Linked DNA regions of Homo sapiens. The protein of the gene in region 3 interacts with the protein of the main gene of each other region in a biochemical or structural test. Each region holds a gene or a part of one and is shown on either strand. Other genes may lie near its edges.

Region 1 (7,026 bases), on a different chromosome or scaffold from region 3:
AAGGCTGGGAAGATGCCCAGTGGGGAGTGGAAGGAGAGTTTCCCCACCTGACAGCCAGCGCAGCCCGAGAGGAAGGGACCCCCGTGAGTGGAGATTTGCTGGGAAAGGCTGAGGAAAGTCCCACAGAGGAACTGAAGAAGCACCCTCCTCACAGAGGACAGGGCGTGCATCCCGACCCCCAGGCCTGCGCCCTTCCTCGGGCCATCCCTCTGAATGTCAGGAAGCCAGTCAAACCAGACAGAGGCAACTTCCCACCCAAAGAGAGGGGAGTGGTTCCCACCCAGAAAGGAGGGGCTGAGCTGAAGGACCGCGAGGCTTCAGCATTTCTTCACATGGAGGTGATCATTCCCCTGCCAGCCTCCCCTGGTCATTCTGAGGACCTGGCAGCTCTGGAGGAAGCTTCTCCAAGCCCAACCTCCCATGGGTCAGGGGAGCCTTCGGAGCTCAGGGAGCCCTTTCTTAGACATGTCCATCTTTCGAAAGCCAGCCCAGAGCCCAAGGACCAAGTAGGGTTTGTGGTGTCCCCTGCCACAGGAGGTGAGCGCAGGCCTCCTCCCATCACCAGCAGAAAGCCCAGAGTAGTCCCTGAAGAAGCTGAGGGGCGCATACCTCTGGGGTTTGGGTTCCCTTCAGGGAAGCGAAGGGAGATGACCTCTTTCCAGGCTGGGGACCAAGAGGGCTCCCTAGAAGATATTAGCAAGACCTCAGTGGCCAACAAAATTCGGATATTTGAGACCCACGGAGCTGAAACTCGCCGAATGAGTGAGGGTGAAGCAAGGTCCCTTCCAAATGACGTATCTTCAGAGGCACCCGTGGGACAAGCAGAGCAGCAGCGGAGTACGCTCTCAGACCTGGGCTTCGCCCAACTCCAGCCCCCAGGGGACTTTGCCAGCCCCAAAGCCACACATTCCACAGTGATACCTCTGGCTACCAGACACTTCAGGGAGGACACTTCTGCATCCTACCAGGAAGCACACACGGAACTAGAGCCCGTGTCCCCCAATTCAGGCTGTGAAACCACGCTGGCAGAAGCTACTGGAACTGGGGTAACTGGCCGCGTGAGCCCCCGCCCCCACCGCTGCTCCCCGCCCATGGGGGCTGGCCGCATGCTCTGTAGTTTTTAGAAGCATGTTTCAGTGGCCCCTCGTCATTTCTGCAATCAGAGGCTGCTTATCCATCCCTGTGAGTTTTTTCCCTAAACGGGCCTGGGTGTAGCTCAGGCTGAATGATGGGCTTCTCTGCTTGGCCCATGTTAGCTTGGCCACAAAGACCCTCAGCTTTTGGTGTGACCTGGTGCCCAGAGGGTCACACAACCCCCATGGAGAAGGTGGCGCCACCACCAGCAAATGACACACCTGCTTTGCCTTGCCGCTCATACCCGCTGGGTTCCTGCCTACCTTGCTTGGCTTGTCCAGCGATCTTTCTTCATCCTTTCCCATCCCTGGTTCTCCCGCCTTGGGAAAGTTGACAGTCCAGAGGTTTCCATCCTTCACTTCTGGTTCCCTCTCAGTCCCAGTGCCAAGTTTCTTTCTGCCTCCTTAAGACTAACTGTCTTCTCTAATCCAGAACAAATCCGGAGATGCGGTCAGGGAAGAGAAGCGCTCCACCAACTTAGCAGCCAACACCCCTGGGAAGGGGGGGCGCCTGAGATTTGCCAGCCCCTCGGGCCCTCAGGTCTCTGCAGCCCCTCTGTGCCCTGATGACCCAGTCACCTTCACCCGGCCAGGATGCATCGCCGCCTTAGGTTCCCACCTGCTGTGGCAGCACCTCTCGTGCTGCTCAACTCTGGCTTGTCTGGAATGTCTCCCTCACACCTCTCAACCTTCCAGAAACTGGCTAAATGGAGGCTCGCTTAGCAAGTGAATGTCTAAGCCCACTGAATCCCTAGAACCAGAAGCCAAGTTCTTTACAAATCTTTCATGGGTATTAGGTTGGTCTTTAAAAAGAATGTTATGAACCAGCCAAAAATGTGTGTGTGGTGTTTAATCCCTGACAGGCCAGTTGAGAGGTATGTATGTCGGACAAGAGTTGCTGGTTCCCCGAGGCACTGCCTTGGCCCGCTGTTGTCAATTACACTGATGGGACCAGAGCCTCTACTCCCTGACTTGCCTGTGGTCCACTCATGGAGCCCAGGGTGGAGCTGGCGTAGCACTCAGCTCCCAAGAAGCTCGTGCCCAAAAGGCCTGACCCTGAATTGCTCTTCTCTCTAGTCGATGCTGACCCCTCCCCCGGAGACTCAGTGGAATTGACAAACATGTTGGCTTCCTCTTTTGTTCCTCAAAGTTCTTGGCTCCAACCTCTCTGCCTTCCCTTCCTGGGTCTCCCTGAATCCCTGGATCTCCCTCCTTAGTTTCTGTTTCTCAACGCCCACCTGCACGGATGGGCCTGGGGTCCGGGCTTCCATCCCTGCCTTTCGTGCAATGCTGCTTCCAATAAGCTCCCAGATCCAATACCCTTGGATGGAGCCTCCTGTCCAGGAGTCACTGGCAGGACGTTTGCTTTGTACTTGCTTTTGCCATCAGTGTGAGACCCTCAGAAAGGGGCATCTCCACTCTTGAGTCGTTTTTGTTTTTTTTATGCTTGTTATGATTTCAAGGAACCTTTCCTGGGGTGTTTTTCATTTCCTGGCCTGCTCTTCCATTCAGGATGTCGACACAGCCCCGAGATTTCTCCTGACATTCACCATCTTGATTTCTCTTTCTCTCTCTCTCCCCACCCCACATCCCCATTCTTTTGATTTTATCTGGCCATAGAGAGCAGGGCTGAGGGAGGGCTCCGAGGAGAAAGTCAAACCACCACGTCCCCGGGCCCCAGAGAGTGACACAGGCGATGAGGACCAGGACCAGGAGAGGGACACGGTGTTCCTGAAGGACAACCACCTGGCCATTGAGCGCAAGTGCTCCAGCATCACGGTCAGCTCTACGTCTAGCCTGGAGGCTGAGGTGGACTTCACGGTCATTGGTGACTACCATGGCAGCGCCTTCGAAGACTTCTCCCGCAGCCTGCCTGAGCTCGACCGGGACAAAAGCGACTCGGACACTGAGGGCCTGCTGTTCTCCCGGGATCTCAACAAGGGGGCCCCCAGCCAGGATGATGAGTCTGGGGGCATTGAGGACAGCCCGGATCGAGGGGCCTGCTCCACCCCGGATATGCCCCAGTTTGAGGTACAGTGGAGCTTCCTCAAGAGCCAGGCCCGCTGGGCACCGCATGCTCAGAGGGCCCTGGGCCACCCGTGAGAAGACCGAGCACCCAGCCTGCAGCCTGAAGCTCTGTCTCGTGTTGCATGACTGCCCCTCCGCAGAACAGCATGGTTCTGTGCTCGCATGTTTGCCATCTCGGTTTACCCCTAACACGCGCTCCTTGGTATTTTAACCCTGTGACCCCATCGCTTGCTGAAGTCGAGCGATGACAGGTAGTCTGGTCTTTCTTGACCCCATGCCCCCCCACCTGTGTTGCATGGCACCTGCAGAGAGCATGCGTCTGTGGACTCTTGGGGGCTCCTGCAGCCTGGTCTGAAAGCTGAATGGTTTTTCCTGATCCGGGCCCAGGCTTGTCTCTCTGGGGTCTGGGCTTCCCGGGGAAGGGGAAGCAGTTTAAATCCATCTGGCCCTGGGGTCTCAGGGTGGTAATGGAAGCTCCTGGAAGAGAGGAAATGTGGTCATTGAGGAGGGACAGACTGTCTCTGGGCCTCTCTGTGGTCTCCTCTGTAGAGCTGTGAAGGGATTTCTCTAAGGCACGCCTGCCCATATCATTCCTTTGCCCCCTCATCTCTTCTAGACCCAACCTCCCTCCTACACTCTCCTTTCCCCAACATTCCTGGCATTGAAATATGAGCTTAGCCACTCTGGGCTCTCACTTCATGCTATATTCTCTGAGCAGGTTTTTTTTTCTCCCTTTCGGTGCCTTACAAACCTATCATGTTCCAGGACCAAGTTCAAATGTCAGTTTCCTAGCAGGGGTTTGCTTTCCTGACCACCCTGGGCAGAAATATCGCCCCCCTACCCCCTTGCCCTGTAATGCCTATGCTCCAGCACTATCCAAAGCGGTCAGGTCAGTGGCTGACAAGCCTGCTCTCCCACCAGGTGGCAGCTCCTCTAGGCCTGGCATATACTAGGCACTAATAGATGATTAACTGGATGAATGGCTGGGTTACAGGGTTGCAACCATCTATAAGAATCCCCTTCAGCCAGGCACAGTGGCTTGTGCCTGTAATCCCAGCTACTCAGGAGCTGAGGCAAGAAGGCAGGGGGATCACTTGAGCCCAGGAGTTCGAGGCTACAGTGAGCTTTGATCGTGCCACTGCACTCCAGCCCGGGCGACAGAGTGAGACCTTGTCTCTTAAAAACAAAACAAAACAAGAAAAAAAAAATCTCCAGGCACAGTGGTTCACACCTGTAATCCCAGCACTTTGGGAGGCTGAGGCAGGTGGATCACCTGAGGTCAGGAGTTCAAGACCACCCTGACCAACATGGTGAAACCTTGTCTCTACTAAAAATACAAAAATTAGCTGGGCGTGGTGGCACCCACCTGTAATCCCAACTACTCGGGAGGCAGGAGAATCACTTGAACTCAGGAGGCAGAGGTTGCAGTGAGCTGAGATCACGCCATTACACTCCAGCCTGGGCAACGGAACGAGATTCCATCTCAAAAAACAAAACAAAAACAAAAACAAAACTATACTCAGAGGTCATAGTCACAGCTTGCCATACCCAAATGGACCCCACATGCTCTCTACTTCACCCCAGTCCTCAACAAACCCTCTTCACTCATTGACATCTCCTGCCTGGATGCTGTAGGCCTCCAAGCATGTGTGGCTCTTGCTCTAAAGAAGAGTCCAGGCTGGGCACGGTGGCCCACACCTGTAATCCCAGCACTTTGGGAGGCTGAGGCAGGTGGATCACTTGAGGTCAGGGGTTCAAGAACAGCCTGGCCAACATGGTGAAACCCCGTCTCTACTAAAAATACAAAAGTTAGCCGGGTGTGGTGGCATGAGCCTGTAGTGCCAGCTACCTGGGAGGCTGAGGTAGGGGAATCGCTTGAACCTGGAAGGCAGAGGTTACAGTGAGCCGAGATCGCACCATCGCACTCCAGCCTGGGCGACAAAGGGAGAGTCTGTCTCAAGAAAAAAAATAGAAGAGTTCAGCTGAAGCGGCTGAGAGGTGGTGAGCTCACCAGGATTTGGTGACATTATGTACACAAGGAAAACACTTAGCCCAGGGCCTGTCATAGAGTATGTTAATGAAATGGTAGATGTTCTAATAGTAGCCTAAAAAACAGCATATAGCCACCATGAGGGTGTGTGGCACAGGGGCGCAGGGCAGGCCTGCCTGGTCCTGGTGGTGGTCCTGGCTCTCCTCGCGGGCTATCTGTCTATGATATCACACCACAACTCTTTTACCCTGTCCAGAGTACCCTTCCAGAGATGTGGCCAGCTGTGGGGATAGGAGATAGCCTGCAGACACCACACTGCAATTGTCTGTGAGCAAGGGTCATGCTAGGGTTTCAGTTACAGAGCATTCTCCCTCCTTTTCCTACAGCCCGTGAAAACAGAAACCATGACTGTCAGCAGTCTGGCCATTAGAAAGAAGATTGAGCCGGAGGCCGTACTGCAGACCAGAGTCTCCGCTATGGATAACACCCAGGTAACTTGTGCCTTCCAATGTACCCTAAGCATGGGTATTGGGCATTTGGTGGTAGGGTCCCCACTGCTGTGGCCAAACCCCTTGGCCAGCTCTTTTAATCTCAGCTTCCCTGGAACCCATATGTTAATCCTGATGCTCTCCTGTGCCTCAGTGTCCTCTCTGAGCTCTGGGGAGGGGCAACGGGTAAAGCAGGTTCCTGTCCTGGGCAGACCATACTTCTTAAAGCCTCCATTTAGCCATCCATAAAATGGGAATGACCCTGTCTACCCCTTCCTCCTGGGCATATTGGGAGGACTGTACTGACTAGTGGATTGGGACCTTGGTGTTCACATTGCTTGGAGGAGTTGGAGAGGTTTCTTGAGGTATCTCAGGGGCTGCTTGAGGAGAGAAGAGGGAGAGATCCCAATTCAGCTTCAGTCAGAATAGCTCACCTTGGGTCATTTTTTATGCATTAGAGTTCCACATCAGATCAGTAAAATGAACAAAGTGAAAGAAGAAAACCGAAGATCATGTGTCTTGACAAGAAGCAGCATCCTGACCACCTGGAGAAAGCCGTCAGGCATAGGCACAGGCCCACGACTTCCAGTCCATTCCCTGCACTCCTTCCATGCTTTTTAAACTTAGGAAGTTAAGATTGAGGATCTGATAGATGCCCTCCTGGTTTTTCCTGGCCAGAAGAGCTACAATGCTAGGAGCTTTTTTGCTCTGAGACTAACCTTTTCCTGAAGAACTGAAATAAGACCAGGCACAGTGGCTCACATCTGTAATCCCAGCACTTTGTGAGGCCAAGGCAGGCAGATCGCTTGAGCCCAGGGGTACAAGACCAGCCTGGGCAATATAGGGAGACCCCAGCTCTACAAAAAATACAAAAATTAGCTGGGCATGGTAGCACATGCCTGTAGTCCCAGCTGCTCGGGAGGCTGATGTAGGAGGATCACTAAAACCCAGGAGGTCGAAGCTGCAGTGAACTATGAGCTATGATTCCACCACTGCATTCCAGCTTGGGTGACAGGGAAAAAAAGAGAGAGAAAGAGAAAACTGAAATAAGACATAAACCAATACAACATGGGCAATTCTTTTGTTTCCAGATTTCTTTCTCCCACTTTTATAATGATGGTAGGAGTTTATGAGGCCGTCTACTACAGGTCAGGACTCTTGAGTTCTGATGAGCTGTGTGACCTTGGGCAAGCTGCTTCCCCCACTGACCTGTTTTGTTTTAGTAACACGTGTTTCTGTTGTGTTTTCATACAGAAAAGTATAAAGAAACTAAAATTGGCCCTAGATCCCACAGCCCAGTAACCCTTATTGACATAAAAACAAAACAACAAAAAAAGTTTATAGTTATACAATTCAAGCAGAACAAAATGGGATTTTTCTTATAATA
Region 2 (7,026 bases), on a different chromosome or scaffold from region 3:
TCTCTGTAGATGTTAAACCACAATTTTCTGATTTTTAATGGGTTCATGAAGACATCTGGGGCCAGTCTGAATTTCTTCCCTGTTTCACTGGCTTTACTCTATTTCATTCTTTTTATTATTATTACTGTTGTTGGTATTACAGTATTATTATTGTCTAGGTGCCAAAAAGGGTTGTTTTTTATTCTCAAAGCTCAGTAATGTATCAAGTATGTCTCAGTGTGTTGATCTTTCTGGGGCAATGTTTAACATGGCATGTCATTTAAACTGAAGATTCAGGTCATCCTTTAGTTCAAAGTAATTTCCCCATTGAACATTCTCTCGTTTTCTTTTATTTTTTTTTCCTTTCCTTTTCCTTTTCTGTTCTCTTGTTCCTGATCATGTATATCTGGGATCTCTCTAATCACCTTTTTTATTCTTCCCCACTTGATTTTAGATGATTTTTCTCAGGCTTGTCTTCCAAATCACTGACAGCACGGCTACAAACACATTCCACATGCCAAAACCAACTCTATAAGATGTGTGCGAATGTCAGAGGAAATCAATTTCAGCAATGTCTTCGTCTGTGTCTTACTGCTTCTAACAGGACTTTTATTTCTGCAGTTCTTTTATTTGTCTTTACTTTTCTTCTTGAGCTCTTCCAGCCTGATTTCCATCCCCTTTGTGATAATATATTTTTGAACATCTTGTGTCTTGTCTTTGAGATTTTTCTCAAAAAGCCCATATTCTCTTTCATTTCTTTGAGGCTGTAGAAAAATTTCTGTAAGAAACGTTCTTTAATGTGCTGGAGGAGCAGTTCTTGATCATATATGTATTTCCCATCTGTCTTTTTCTGTTTTTGTTTCTTGTCTTTATCATTCCTCCCCCCACCCCCTTCTTTTCAATCAACTCTGTCTACCCCAAGGTCTCACTGGCATTCTCTCTGGTATTGGCCTTCTTTGAATGAGGCAGATCTACTGGACCTATCATTTGCTTAAAAGCAGTGGGGAGGGCAAAGGGAGTGAGACAGGGCAGGTGGCCAACCAACTGGAATATTTGCTCCCAAGCACCTTGTCGCCAACCACTGCTCTGCCCCAGAGAGACACATTAGAGTTGGGGTTAGGGCTGGGGTTAGGGTTAGAGTTACGGTTAGGGTTAGGGTTAGGGTTAGGGTTAGGGTTAGGGTTAGGGCATCCTCCACTCTGAGGCTCACAGATTAGGCAGAAGGCCACTGTGGCTAGAAACGAAGTTTGGGCAATTCTAGTCTCTCTCTTGACTGGCTGGGGCCTAGATTCTTTTCTCTGCTCAGCAGTCACAATGCAAAATGCCACTTCCCTCCTTTCCTCCCTCTTTACCTCCCCTCCAGACTGTTCCTCTGGATTAGGTGCTGGGTCACAGCCTAGAAAGATGGCGTCTCTGTGTGGCTCCTCCTTCAATTCTGCCTCCCTAGAGATCTCAGCTCAACAAGGGTCTCTATAGGGAAGTTCTGTGATTCCCTCCTGGCCCATCTCATGCTCTAGGCCTCAAGCAAAGAAGTTTGAGTTGGGTATTTCAGGACTGTGTTCTTTACCTTTTGAGAAATCTGAACTTTGCTAAAGATACGGAGAAACATGTAATGGTTCTGTGGCTCCTCCCACTGAAAGAAGCTTCCTACTCTTTAAGTCGATGATCTGTCATCCCTTTGTAGTTTTACAAAAAAGATGAAGCTAATACCCTATTTTGATATTGTTTTTGCTGGGTTTCTGGCAGGGGAATAAATTATAAATCCCTTCACACTCTCATCTTTTACCATAATTCCCTTAGATTGATTCTCATTTCCTTTCAGAAGTACTCCATCCTGGAAGATCATTAAGCTGTTGGGTATTGTGAGTGCTAAATGGCCTTGCAGATTTTTCTTCTGGGTCTTATAGTGGAGCCATGAACTGCAATCTCACTCTAAAGCTTACCCTTTCTACTGAAATTTAAAATCGTCTTTTCTCATGGGAGCTAAACAAGGGGCCATGAATGCTCTGTGGCTGGGATATTTCTCCCCCTCTTCTTCAAGTTTCATGTGTTTCTGCAATGCTACGCTGGTCACAGTAGGGACTAAAAAGCATTTACCAAAAGGGACTCAATCAAAACACAGCTACATAAATATCCTGTTAGAAGGCAGCTCCCAAATTTAGCAGGTTTTGAGGGGTGGAGATGCTTTCATTAAATTTTGGATATTGGTGGACTGGCAAAGCTATTGAAAAGACATCTGCCCAAGGGATCAGCAACCTCCTGAAGGCCTGCATTTCAAGTCAGTATCCTCACGCACAAAAAGGAAGGGAGAAGAAGGGAGCAACAGGGCCAGGACCGAGAGGGGAAGAGGATAGAAAGAAGAAATGCAGGAAGACAAAGGCAAAAGAATGAAGCAGAGTCACCAGGGGTGGCCGGGAGCCCACAGGAGCCTCAGCACCATAGACTGTGTGAAGCTAACATGTAATTTATTTATTTATTTATTTATTTATTTATTTATTTATTTATTTGTTTGTTTATTTGACAGAGTCTTGCTCTGTTGCCCAGGCTGGAGTGAGTGCTCACTGCAACCTCCGCCTCCTGGGTTCAAATGATTCTCGTGCCTCAGCCTCCCAAATGCATGGGACTACAGGCGCACACCACCACACCTAGCTAATTTTTTTATTTTTTGTAGAGATAGGGTTTCTCCATGTTGGCCAGGCTGGTCTCAAACTCCTGGCCTCAAGTGATCTGCCCATCTTGGCCTCCCAAAGTGCTGGGATTACAGGCATGAGCCACTGCGCCTGGCCGCTACCTTGTAATTTCTAAATGCTAACTAAATGTGTTATTAGAACAAACAGTCCATGACTTATTTTTCCTGGTGTTTCTCCCATCTCCCCTACACTTATACCAACCACCTGGCTCTGGCCCTGGCAGGATTTTAATCATAAAAATGCCCCAGAGCCAGGCATGGGCTTCTTCCTGAGGTATCTGGAGCTGCTAAGGGCCAAGGACATAGCAATCTCATCACAGCAATCACATTCAACTTCTATAAGTGATAGAGCGGCTGGGAGCGCTGCTGTGCTGAGAGACAGCAACAGCTACAGAGTCCGAGTGTGGGGATATCCGCTTGGAGCTCCAGGGGTCACTCTTGGAAGCTCCGATTTACTAGCGCAGGCAGTGGGTCGGGGACTTACATTTCTTGTTTTTTTGGGGTTTTTGTTTGTTTGTTTTTTGTTTTTTTTCTGAGACGGAGTCTTGCTCTGTCACCCAAGCTGGAGTTCAGTGGTGTGATCTTGGCTCACTGCAATGTCTGCCTCCCGGGTTCAAGCGATTCTCCTGCCTCAGCCCCCCAGGTAGCTGGGAGTACAGGTGCCCGCCACCACACCTGGCTAATTTTTTGTATTTTTAGTAGATAGGGAGTTTCACCATGTTAGCCAGGATGGTCTCGATCTCCTGACTTCGTGACCTGCCCGCCTTGGCCTCCCAAAGTGCTGGGATTACAGGCGTGAGCCGCCATGCCTGGCCCGGGGACTCACATTTCTAAAAAGCTCCCCAGACAGTTTGTATGCCTACTAACATTGGAGAACCACGGGTCTGGCAGGTCTTTAAGCCCTAATAATACATGACTCATGGCTCTTAAATCATGTTCAGCTACTATATGGGAAGGCAGGGCAACAAATATGGCAGAGACTCAGCCAAAAGCTGCCAGCTGCTTCCTGGATGTTGAGGGTCAATGTTTTTTTAAAATAAATAAATAATTAATAACCTAATTGTTTTTAGAGATGGGGTCTCACTCTGTCACCCAGGCCAGAGTGCAGTGCCACCTCCTTAACTTGCTGCAGCCTCAGGTTCCTGGGCTCAAGTGATCCTCCAGCTTCAGCCTCCCATGTGGCTGGGACTACAGGCACACACCACCATGCCCAGCTAATTTTTTTTTTTTATTTTTTGTATAGATGGGGTCTCGCTATGTTGCCCTGGCTGGTCTTGAACTCCTGGCCTCAAGCAATCCTCCCACCTCAGCCTCCCAAATCACTGGGATTACAGGCATGAGCCACTGCACCTGGCCAAGGGTCACTGTTAAAAGCTAATAGAACACTCCTCTGTCATCCCTAGAAGGGGCCATGTGGAGCCCTACAATCACCAACAGTAGACTGCGTTCACATTTGAATAGCCCCAGATTCTACGAGCCTCATCTCTAATTCTCAATTGCTAACACCAGGTATAATCTACGAAATTCCTCAGGCTGCTTTCACATAACCTGTCTTTAGGCTGTGTGAGTAAGGCTGAGAGAGAAGCAGAAGGTGGGGCCATGTTCCCAGGCACTTTCTGAGAACACCCGAAGCCCATCTTCTGTGTGTGTGAAAGCTGGGGCTTGGCTGCCCCGAACAGAACTAGTGTTTTTAATCCAAGTCTCCACATTTCAGACTGTTTAAATGTCTGGCCCAAACACAAGTAAAAACAAAATAAAACAAAGCCCCGTTCGTGTACTCGGCACACGTGTCGGGAGGGAAGATGAACCTTAATAATATGGAGCTTGGGTAAGAGGTTGCAGTCAGCCAGCGTCAGCTCGTCCCCATCCAGAAACTTCCTTCCAGAAACAGTGACATCCTCGGTGCTGTAGGCATCTATTTCATCAGGCAGAGGGCTATTTAAGTAATTATCCAGCTTCCTCAGGGCCTTCAGCAGGTTCTTTTCATGAACTAAAACAGAAGGGCAAGAAATCACAAAGAGAGGTTTGCAAGTGCATGTCACTTTTCACCAGCTGTGATGGAGTTTGCTTCCCTTCCTCGCTGAGATGTGGCCAGCAAGCAATGGGTGCTGGGAAGGCAGCAGGTGGATGTAGAATATCTGAATAAAGGGCTCACTCCTCCCTGGAAAATCACACTGCTGTCTACACAATATTGCTCCTTCTAGAAGTGATTTATTTATTCAAAAATACTTATGGAAAGCCTGTGGGGAGACGTGGACTGGCAGAAACATCATTGAACATGATTCCCATGGTGTGTCCGGAACACCTGGGTGATGACTATTTTCCCTAAAAATGTTGTTTTCTGAGTTCCCAGCCTCAAAAGAAGCATTCATCTCTTGAAGCCCACGTGCAGATTCAAAGTTGGAGGCACTTTTTCTGTAGCTCCAGACTCACTTCTCTACCCACTGGGAAATAGATGGGAATACCCCAGGAGCGTATGGGCCGCCATGCTAAGACTCAAGTCTGTGTTGAAACAAAACAGGAGGATGGGAGGTACTCACTCTCATTTGCATCCTTCTTCGTGTTTTTTATAAACGCTGAGAATTTGGCAAACACGTCATTTCCTGCGGAATTAGATTCGGGATGTTGGGTCCCCAGCTTGGGATACCTTGAAAAGTTCAAAATTGGAGGATCACAGACAAGTGATGTTTTAGTGAAGATAATACTATACAATGGAGAAAAACAGCTTTCTCTGGGCATAAAAATGAAAAGCTTTCCTTCAACGTTTTCCTGACCCTTTTCCTCTCAAAGGTTGGGAAGTAACAACATCTAGGAGAATGGCACTGGACGGAGAGGTTTGGATTGTTGCTGTTTCCTGGCAGTGGCCAGTTCTGGGACACAGGACCCCACCTGGCCTTGCTGGTCTCAGGTGCTTCCCTAGTAAAACGAAGGGGATGGAGTAGAAATAGCTCCCCCGAGGTCCAAAAATCCATGATACTTCTTCCTAACACATACTCCATAGCTTCCAGCAGGGTGTCTAGGATACAGCCAACCACCCACCCTGGACCCATCTCCTCCCACTTCCTGCCATCAAACTGTGATTGCCAAGCTGCAGGTGCAGCACAATGAAACCCAGGTCCCCGAACTCTAATCTGGTTACACCAGGGTTATGATTAAGGAAGTGAGCACCGTGGGCTGCAGAAAACCACACACACACACACTGCCCAGAGCTTTAGAACTGACTACTAGTGGGGGAAAGTGACAATCAAGTTATGAACACTGGTTTTCTGAGGCCTACCTCGGGGGAGCTAATTTCTCCTCTAAGAACTCCTCGATCTTATTCACATCCGTCTTGACTTCACCATCAAAAGTCATGAAAGGAGGGTTTGTTCCGGGAGCCAGGTTCTGCAGGTCTGCGGGTTTCCTAGGTGGGAGGAAACAGCAGTGTTTATGGGCCACCGTGAGAATCTGGACTCATTTCCAGGGCTTAGCCGCGTCCTCACCAGTTTAAGAGAAGCAACTCTTGAGAACTGCAAAGTAGATGGTGGGTTTATGAAAATGTCTTGCTGGCGATGAAAGTAAAGGCATTCATTAACAAATGATGGGCTTGTTGAGGTGCCCCTTTGTGAATACGGAGCACAAAGGGGCATATCAACAAACAGAGGTGAAAAAGTTAACTCTCCCCAGTGTTATCAGCCAGGGATGGTGCTCAGACAGGCTTGGGAGAGTCACAGCTGACCAGCAACTGGAGAAGCAGGTTCTTCACGGCACCCCCAACTCCTCCTCCTTCCTGACTCCAGCCCAGCCGACCCTGTCATGACTGCTTGGCCCACATGTGGGCTTCAGTTCAGACTCCGACTGAGGATGGACGTGCCCATGCAGCACCGTTGGCCTCAGGTGTGTGTGTGTGTGTGTGTGTGTGTGTGTGTGCAGAGAACTAGGTACAGTTATTTCAGTAAGGCAGACGCCTTGTCTTACCTTTTCAGGTCCACTGTGGTCACATTAAATATAACGCCTTTCAGCCAGAGAATCATAAAGAGACGCTGAGAAAACGGGCAATTTCCGATACTCTCACCATCATAACCAGCCTACAAGTGGAGAAGGAGATTTCTATCTGAGCCAGTCTCACAATTATAAGTGCCAACACCACAACATGCACATGCAAAATCATTGCAGGTTGATAAGAACGGTCAGGATGCTGCGAATATCCTCCTGAGGCCATTTTACCAGCCTCAATGTGGAGTTGGCGGTGGATGTAGGGGTTAGGGGAGAGAACACCACACACGCACGCACATGCACATGTATGCACTGCACTGAGCATTTTCTTTCTTCCTTCCCCACCACCTCACCACTGCCTGCCACACTGGGCCTCTGAGCAG
Region 3 (7,026 bases):
GGCAAAATTCCGTCTCAAAAAATAAATAAATTAATTAATTGATTAATTAAAGAAACGTGTCCAAGATCACACAGTTAATAAATAGCAGACCTGAATCTCACACTGAAGGCTCTCTGGCTTCCACCTACCTCAGAAGACCAAGAAGCAGAATAAGGGTCCTACATGGCCACTGCCCTCTCCCCACCAGCCCACACCTGAGGCTTCATCTTCCAAGGCCAACTTTGAGGTTGGAGAATCCCCAACCCTTTATGAAGACTGGCCGGGTGTACCAACAGTTGTTGCTCACAGTGCTGGATGAAGCACAGATGTTCCATGTCACAATGGTAAAGAGGGATGGGGAGTTAAAATTATAGAAAGAACATTGGCTTGGGCATAAAACTGGCTGCAAGAACATATTTTTCAGGTGCAGCCTTGGGCTACTTACTGAACCTCTCTGAGCTTTAATCTGCTCATCCGAAAAGAGAGACAGTAATAATGGCACCTGTCTCATATAACGTTGCCTTAATTATTAGGTGGGATAAGGGGTACAAAGCTCTTGGCTCATCGCCTGGCAGATATTAGTTTGCTTTTCTTTTCTTTTTCAAGATGGGGCACGTTTCAGGCCCATCTTGGGCCTTGGAGGAATCTCAGCATCTGCTATGAAGAAGGCAAAGCTAGAGGGACCTCCCAAGGAGAAATGGCAGGAACATTTCAGGATATAAAGCAGGGACAAGGACCCTTCTAAGTGCACATTCTCCATGTCACAATATCATTACCTGCCTTTTTCCCATCCCACCTCTGACAAGTGCTGGGATTCCCTGAAAAATCAAATCTCTGTCTTGTATTCAGCCGCCATCTGCCCTCCATCCCAGATTCAAAATTGGAGAACTGGCATTCTCAGCAAATAAGGCTTCTTCCTTTCATTGCATTCAAACAATTCTCCAATGCCTCCGCACCAGCAGGCCCTTTTCTGAGGGCTGCATCCCTCCTGGGAGCCTCTGCCCTGTTGCCCTGTAATGCTCTCCCCAGCCTCCCAGGCTGCATGTCTCTGTGTGACACTTGTGACATCCTATGAAAGGGATCATCTGTCTATCTAGACTGTTTGCTCCCTTGAGAGAAGACATGGTGTCTCATTCATCTTTGTAGCCCCAGTGTCTGGCGTATGATTGTTGGTAACTTTTTATTTTAAGCAAGCTGTAAGAAACTCAAAGATGAATTAGACCTTCTACCCTCAAGGACCTGACAGTATACGTATCTGAGACTGCATCCTTCCCACCCCCTGTGCAGCAGAAAGTGCAGGCACCACACGTGACATGGAGCCGTGTTTTATGCTCCTTACTGAGTTCTGATACTTGCTAACTGCTTTACCTTCCCCCTTCTCATCCACAGGGGACCCCACTGTCTGCTCCATCTCCAACCCTGATTTTGTCATCTACTCTTCAGTGGTGTCCTTCTACCTGCCCTTTGGAGTGACTGTCCTTGTCTATGCCAGAATCTATGTGGTGCTGAAACAAAGGAGACGGAAAAGGATCCTCACTCGACAGAACAGTCAGTGCAACAGTGTCAGGCCTGGCTTCCCCCAGCAAGTAAGTACCCTGGAGGGGGTAGAGGGAAGACAACACCCAATCTCCTGACTTCCCAGCCTGTGTCCAGCAGTGCATGATTTTGCCGTTTAGCTAAATTGGAGACACAAATCTGACACCGACTTTGGAATCTGCTAATTTTGGCTGCGCTTTGAAGGTAGGAAATCCAATCTCAAGAAAACATTGATAGTTGCCTCTAGAGCCTGCCTTACCTGGCAAAGTGATTGGAGAGCTCCTGGGCTTGTTCTGCTTCCCTTCAAAGTCTTTCATTTTCCCCAAATGGGCAGCAGCTCAGATGTCCCACAGGTTTTGAAGTTTAAGTGCAGCAGTTGTACCTTGCACTGCTGGTGGGTTCCCAGAACTGACTTTTTGTCTAAACCACTCATGCCAAGAATCACTGGGGTCCATCAAAGCCTTTTTTCCTTACTGGATCTGTCCGTGTGTCAAGGAACTGACAAGCTGGTGGGATAGGGTGCTGATAAAGCATTTTATTGGATCTTTCTAGGCTCTGAAAAGAAATGTCATTGCCTCTGCAATGATCTTCTAATTGCTAGGGCTTTAATTTCTCCTTACCCCATTGTCTGGCACTTAGTAGTTTTCCCACGATGTACTTGAAGCATGAATGGATATATACCGATCACTTGAAATCTACTAGGGAAGGGACAGTGGTAACATTAAACAGCATCTGCCTTCATGGAGCTTAGAATCTAGAAAAGCAAATAAAGCACCCCTCCACTCAATGTTAATGAAGATCCCAGAGCTGAATAGGATGTTTGCCAAATGTGAGGTGAAGACAATTAAGCACTCAATTATGAAGTGCTCTGGAGGTTATAGAAGAGAAAACCCAATATGCTCAGTGATATGGTTTGGCTGTGTCCCCACCCAAATCTCATCTTGAATTGTAGCTCCCACAATTCCCATGTGTCATGGGAGGGACCCAGTGGGAGGTAACTGAATGATGGGGGTGGGTCTTTCCCTTGCTGTTCTCATGATAGTGAATAAGTCTCACGAGATCTGATGGTTTTATGAGGGGGAGTTTCCCTGCACAAATTTTCTCTTGTCTGCTGCCATGTAAGACGTGCCTTTCACCTTCCACCATGATTGTGAGGCCTCCCCAGCCACATGGAACTGTGAATCCATTAAACTTCTTTTTCTTTATAAATTACCCAGTCTCAGGTATGTCTTTATTAGCAGCATGAAAACAGGCTAATACACTCAGGAAAGGGCTCCATAGACAGAGTAAGAATTGAGTTTGATCTTGAAGACAGATCCAATTTGGGTGTCTAGATTAATCTTTGATGACCTAGATAATCTTTTTTTTTTTTTTTTTTTTTGAGACAGAGTCTCGCTCTGTCACCCAGACTGGAGTGCAGTGACATGATCTCAGCTCACTGCAGCCTGTACCTCCTGGGTTCAAGCGATTCTCGTGCCTCTGCCTCCCGAATAGCTGGGATTACAGGTGCCCACCAACACATCTGGCTAATTTTTTTTTTTTTTTTTTTTTTGAGACGGAGTCTCGCTCTGTGGCCCAGGCGGGAGTGCAGTGGCGCAATCTCAGCTCACTGCAAGCTCCGCCTCCCGGGTTCACGCCATTCTCCTGCCTCAGCCTCCCGAGTAGCTGGGACTACAGGCGCCCACCATCACGCCCGGCTAATTTTTTTTTTTTTGTATTTTTAGTAGAGACGGGGTTTCACTGTGTTAGCCAGGATGGTCTCGATCTCCTGACCTCGTGATCCGCACGCTTCGGCCTCCCAAAGTGCTGGGATTACAAGCGTGAGCCACCGCGCCCGGCCACATCTGGCTAATTTTTGTATTTTTAGTAGAGACAGGGTTTTTCCTTGTTGGCTAGGCTGGTCTATAATGCCTGGCCTCAAATGATCTGCCCACCTCAACCTCTCCAAGTGCTGGGATTACAGGCATAAGTGCCCAGCCTGATGACCTACATTATCTCTGATGACCTGTTAAGGTCTTTGATGATGTCAAAAGTATGAATGAAGGTCAGACTCTTAAGTTGAAGTCCCAAGGCTTGAGTGAAACAAGACTATTAATCCCCATGAAAGAGGAGATCAAGACCCAAGGCTGAGGATATGAAAGTATTGCATTCAAAATATTATCATGTCCCATGGCTATCAATGACATGGCTAGACCCACAACTAACTGTTCCTTCTTCTACACCCCCTGCCCAGTCTTCTTGTCTGCACCTGCACCCCATTCAGCAGTTGTCAGTAAGGGCCTGATTTCCATCACATGCCACAGGAAAAATGGTAAGTGGGCCATGTCTGATCATAGAGAAAGAATAAGAGACCTTTTCCCACAATACTGGCTTATCTTGATTCTACTCTCACCCCAGAATGAAACCTTACCCTGATTCCCACACATATATCTATAAGACAAGATCTGAAATTCTTCCTAATTTAAGCTTCAGAATAGAATTCATCAGAAGATATTGAGAAAGCATATGACTATTGGACTTGACCTTAGTGACTGGAGCCAATGACTCTTGCACACGGTGTGACAATGCCATCCAAGGCCACCTGCATTAGAGGAAACAGACGTCAAGGGAACACACATGGACAGAGCAAAAACCAGGCAGAGAAAGGAAAATTTCAAGTGCCATATTTACCACTGAATGTGGGAAAAACCAAGACAACTTCATGGTCACCATTAGCCTTGTTCTTCCAATTCAAGCCAGGCCTGCCTCGCCCAGCTAGCAGAGTGCAGAGTGGAGTCTGGAGGTGTTAGATATGAGAACAGTATTCCTCTCTGAATTCCACATTAGAAATAAAACTTCAAAAATTTGTAATAATTAAGGTCTGAGCTTTGTTCAATCTCAGTATAGTTAATGACTTTCTACACAGGCCTGGTGTGGTAATTGGAGATAATCATTTTAAACGATAATAGCTATGCAGCTCAAAGTTGCCTATGGCTGATCCAAGGTCTAAGGAGGCTTCAAGGCCAAGAGGAGGAAAAATATTGAATACAAAAGAGAGATCAGACAGCCAAGAGACTGGCATTTCCAAGAGTGTGGAGAATTAGGTTCTGTCCTGCCATCTGGGAGTGGAGGGCTCTGCCAGCCAGACCCAGAGGAATCCAGTGTTTCCTCATGTCAGTCATGGAAGTAGTGATCAGGTTTTGCAGACAGAGCTGAAAAATACACTCACCAATATATAATCTTGGAAGAATCATTTTCCTACTATAGGACTGAATTTCCATATCTGTAAAATGGAAACAGGGTATACTAGATCAATGTTTTCAAATATGAGGTTTTTTTGTTTTTGTTTTTGTTTTTGAGACAGAGTCTCACTCTGTTCCCCAGGCTGGAGTGCAGTGGTGTGATCACAGCTCATGGCAGCCTTGAACTCTTGGGCTGCACCCAGCTAATATGAGATTTCTTAGGCAATCCCAAGAATTTGTTTCCCATCCCCTAGTTTTAGAAATAATGCGTTAGAAGTCAAATATTGTCACTTTAAGAAGATCAGTAGGTGCCAGTTTAATTGTAAACATAATCTTGGGGCCGCGTGTGGTGGCTCACGCCTGTAATCCCAGCAATTTGAGAGGCCAGGATGGGCAGATCACCAGGTCAGGAGTTCGAGACCAGCCTGACCAACATGGTGAAACCCCATCTCTACTTAAAAAAATACAAAAATTAGCCGGGCATGGTGGCATGCACCTATAATCCCAGCTACTCAGGAGGCTGAGGCACAAGAATCACTCTAACCCAGGAAGCAAAGGTTGCAGTGAGCAGAGATTTCACCACTACACTCCAGCCTGGGCGACAGAGGGAAACTCCATCTCAAAAACAAACAAACAACAACAAAAAAAAACAAACAAAAAAACACACCATAATCTCTGTTGTAAATAGGCATTCAGATAAAATGAAATATGCTTATTTTAATTATTAGAAAATGCCATCAAACTAAAAACCAAAAAATGTTAAATATGTATTCTCTTAACTTGACGTCATGTTAAGTGAAATAAGCCAGACATAGTAAGACAAATATCGGCCGGGCGCGGTGGCTCACGCCTGTAATCCCAGCACTTTGGGAGGCCGAGGCGGGTGGATCATGAGGTCAAGAGATCGAGACCATCCTGGCTAACAAGGTGAAACCCCGTCTCTACTAAAAATACAAAAAATTAGCCGGGCGCGGTGGCGGGCGCCTGTAGTCCCAGCTACTCGGGAGGCTGAGGCAGGAGAATGGCGCGAACCCGGGAAGCGGAGCTTGCAGTGAGCCGAGATTGCGCCACTGCAGTCCGCAGTCCGGCCCGGGCGACAGAGCGAGACTCCGTCTCAAAAAAAAAAAAAAAAAAAAAAAAAAAAGACAAATATCACATGTTCTCAATCACATATGGAAGCTAAAAAAGTGGTTATCGTGAAAATAGAGAGTAGGTTCATGGTTACCAGAGGCTAGGAAGGAGATGGGGGAGGGGGCGAGAAAGAGAGGTGGATTCAGGGGTACAAACATACAATTAAATAGAAGGAACAAGTTCTAGTGTCTAATAGCACAGTAGGGTGACTACGCTTAACAACAGTTTTTATATATTTCAGAATACCTAGAAGAAAAGATTTGAAATGCTCCCAACACAAAGAAATGATAATTGTTTGAAGTGATGACTAGCCTGATTTGATCATTACACATTGTATGCATGTATCAAAATATTGCATTTGCCCCACAAATATGTAAAATTATTATATATGAATTTTTAAAATCTTCAAGAAAAAAATGTATATTATTCTAGAATTCCTAAGAATACCTCTGTGGACCACCATTTAAAAAAAACTCTAGGCCAGATGCTGTGGCTCATGCTTGTAATCCCAGCACTTTGGGAGGCTGAGGTAGGTGGATCACTTGGGGTCAGGAGTTCGAGACCAGCCTGGCCAAAATAGTGAAACCCCATCACTATTAAAAATACAAAAATTAGCCAGGTGTGATGGTGGGCGCCTGTAATCCCAGCTACTCAGGAGTCTGAGGCAGGAAAATTGCTTGAACCTGGGAGGCAGAGGTTGCAATGAGCCGAGATCATGCCACTTCACTCCAGCCTGGTGACAGAGTGAGACTTTGTCTTAAAGAATAAATAAATAAATAAAAATTTTAAAAACTTAAATTGGCTGGGCATGTTGGCTCACACCTGTAATCCCAACACTTTTGGAGGCCAAGACAGGAGGATCACTTGAGCCCAGGAATTTGAGACCAGCCTGGCCAACATAGCAAGACCTCATTTCTACTAAAAATAATAAATAAATAAATAACACTAAATAGTCTTGAAGACCGCTTGCATTCATTCATTCATTCTGAGTATGTACAATGTGCCAGTTCTGTGTACCTAGAAGACTGCTTCCTTGAACTAAGGAAACCAAAGCGAGGGGTTTTTGTTGCTGACACTGAATAACTTACGTAGAAAACAAATTTACTGGAAAGCTGTCAGGTGGCTCACAGGCTCAATGAGAAGGCTGAAGAACAGCTTC

Evidence for each region.
Region 1: the proteins of DRD3 (region 3) and EPB41L1 form a complex in vitro, tested with the Homo sapiens proteins (one study listed by BioGRID).
Region 2: the proteins of DRD3 (region 3) and CLIC6 form a complex in vitro, tested with the Homo sapiens proteins (one study listed by BioGRID).

What each region holds. Positions count from the first base shown.
Region 1 is NC_000020.11:36,206,735-36,213,760, forward strand, and holds part of EPB41L1 (band 4.1-like protein 1), read left to right. Parts: coding exon of another isoform or gene 1-1,046; intron 1,047-1,566; coding exon of another isoform or gene 1,567-1,674; intron 1,675-2,753; coding exon 2,754-3,164; intron 3,165-5,537; coding exon 5,538-5,642; intron 5,643-6,602; exon of another isoform or gene 6,603-6,642; intron 6,643-7,026. UniProt on the Homo sapiens protein: May function to confer stability and plasticity to neuronal membrane via multiple interactions, including the spectrin-actin-based cytoskeleton, integral membrane channels and membrane-associated guanylate kinases.
Region 2 is NC_000021.9:34,706,989-34,714,014, reverse strand, and holds part of CLIC6 (chloride intracellular channel protein 6), read right to left. Parts: intron 6,736-7,026; coding exon 6,626-6,735; intron 6,072-6,625; coding exon 5,946-6,071; intron 5,316-5,945; coding exon 5,209-5,315; intron 4,659-5,208; coding exon 4,477-4,658; intron 1-4,476. UniProt on the Homo sapiens protein: In the soluble state, catalyzes glutaredoxin-like thiol disulfide exchange reactions with reduced glutathione as electron donor. Can insert into membranes and form voltage-dependent chloride-selective channels.
Region 3 is NC_000003.12:114,134,039-114,141,064, reverse strand, and holds part of DRD3 (D(3) dopamine receptor), read left to right. Parts: intron 1-1,368; coding exon 1,369-1,565; intron 1,566-7,026. UniProt on the Homo sapiens protein: Dopamine receptor whose activity is mediated by G proteins which inhibit adenylyl cyclase. Promotes cell proliferation.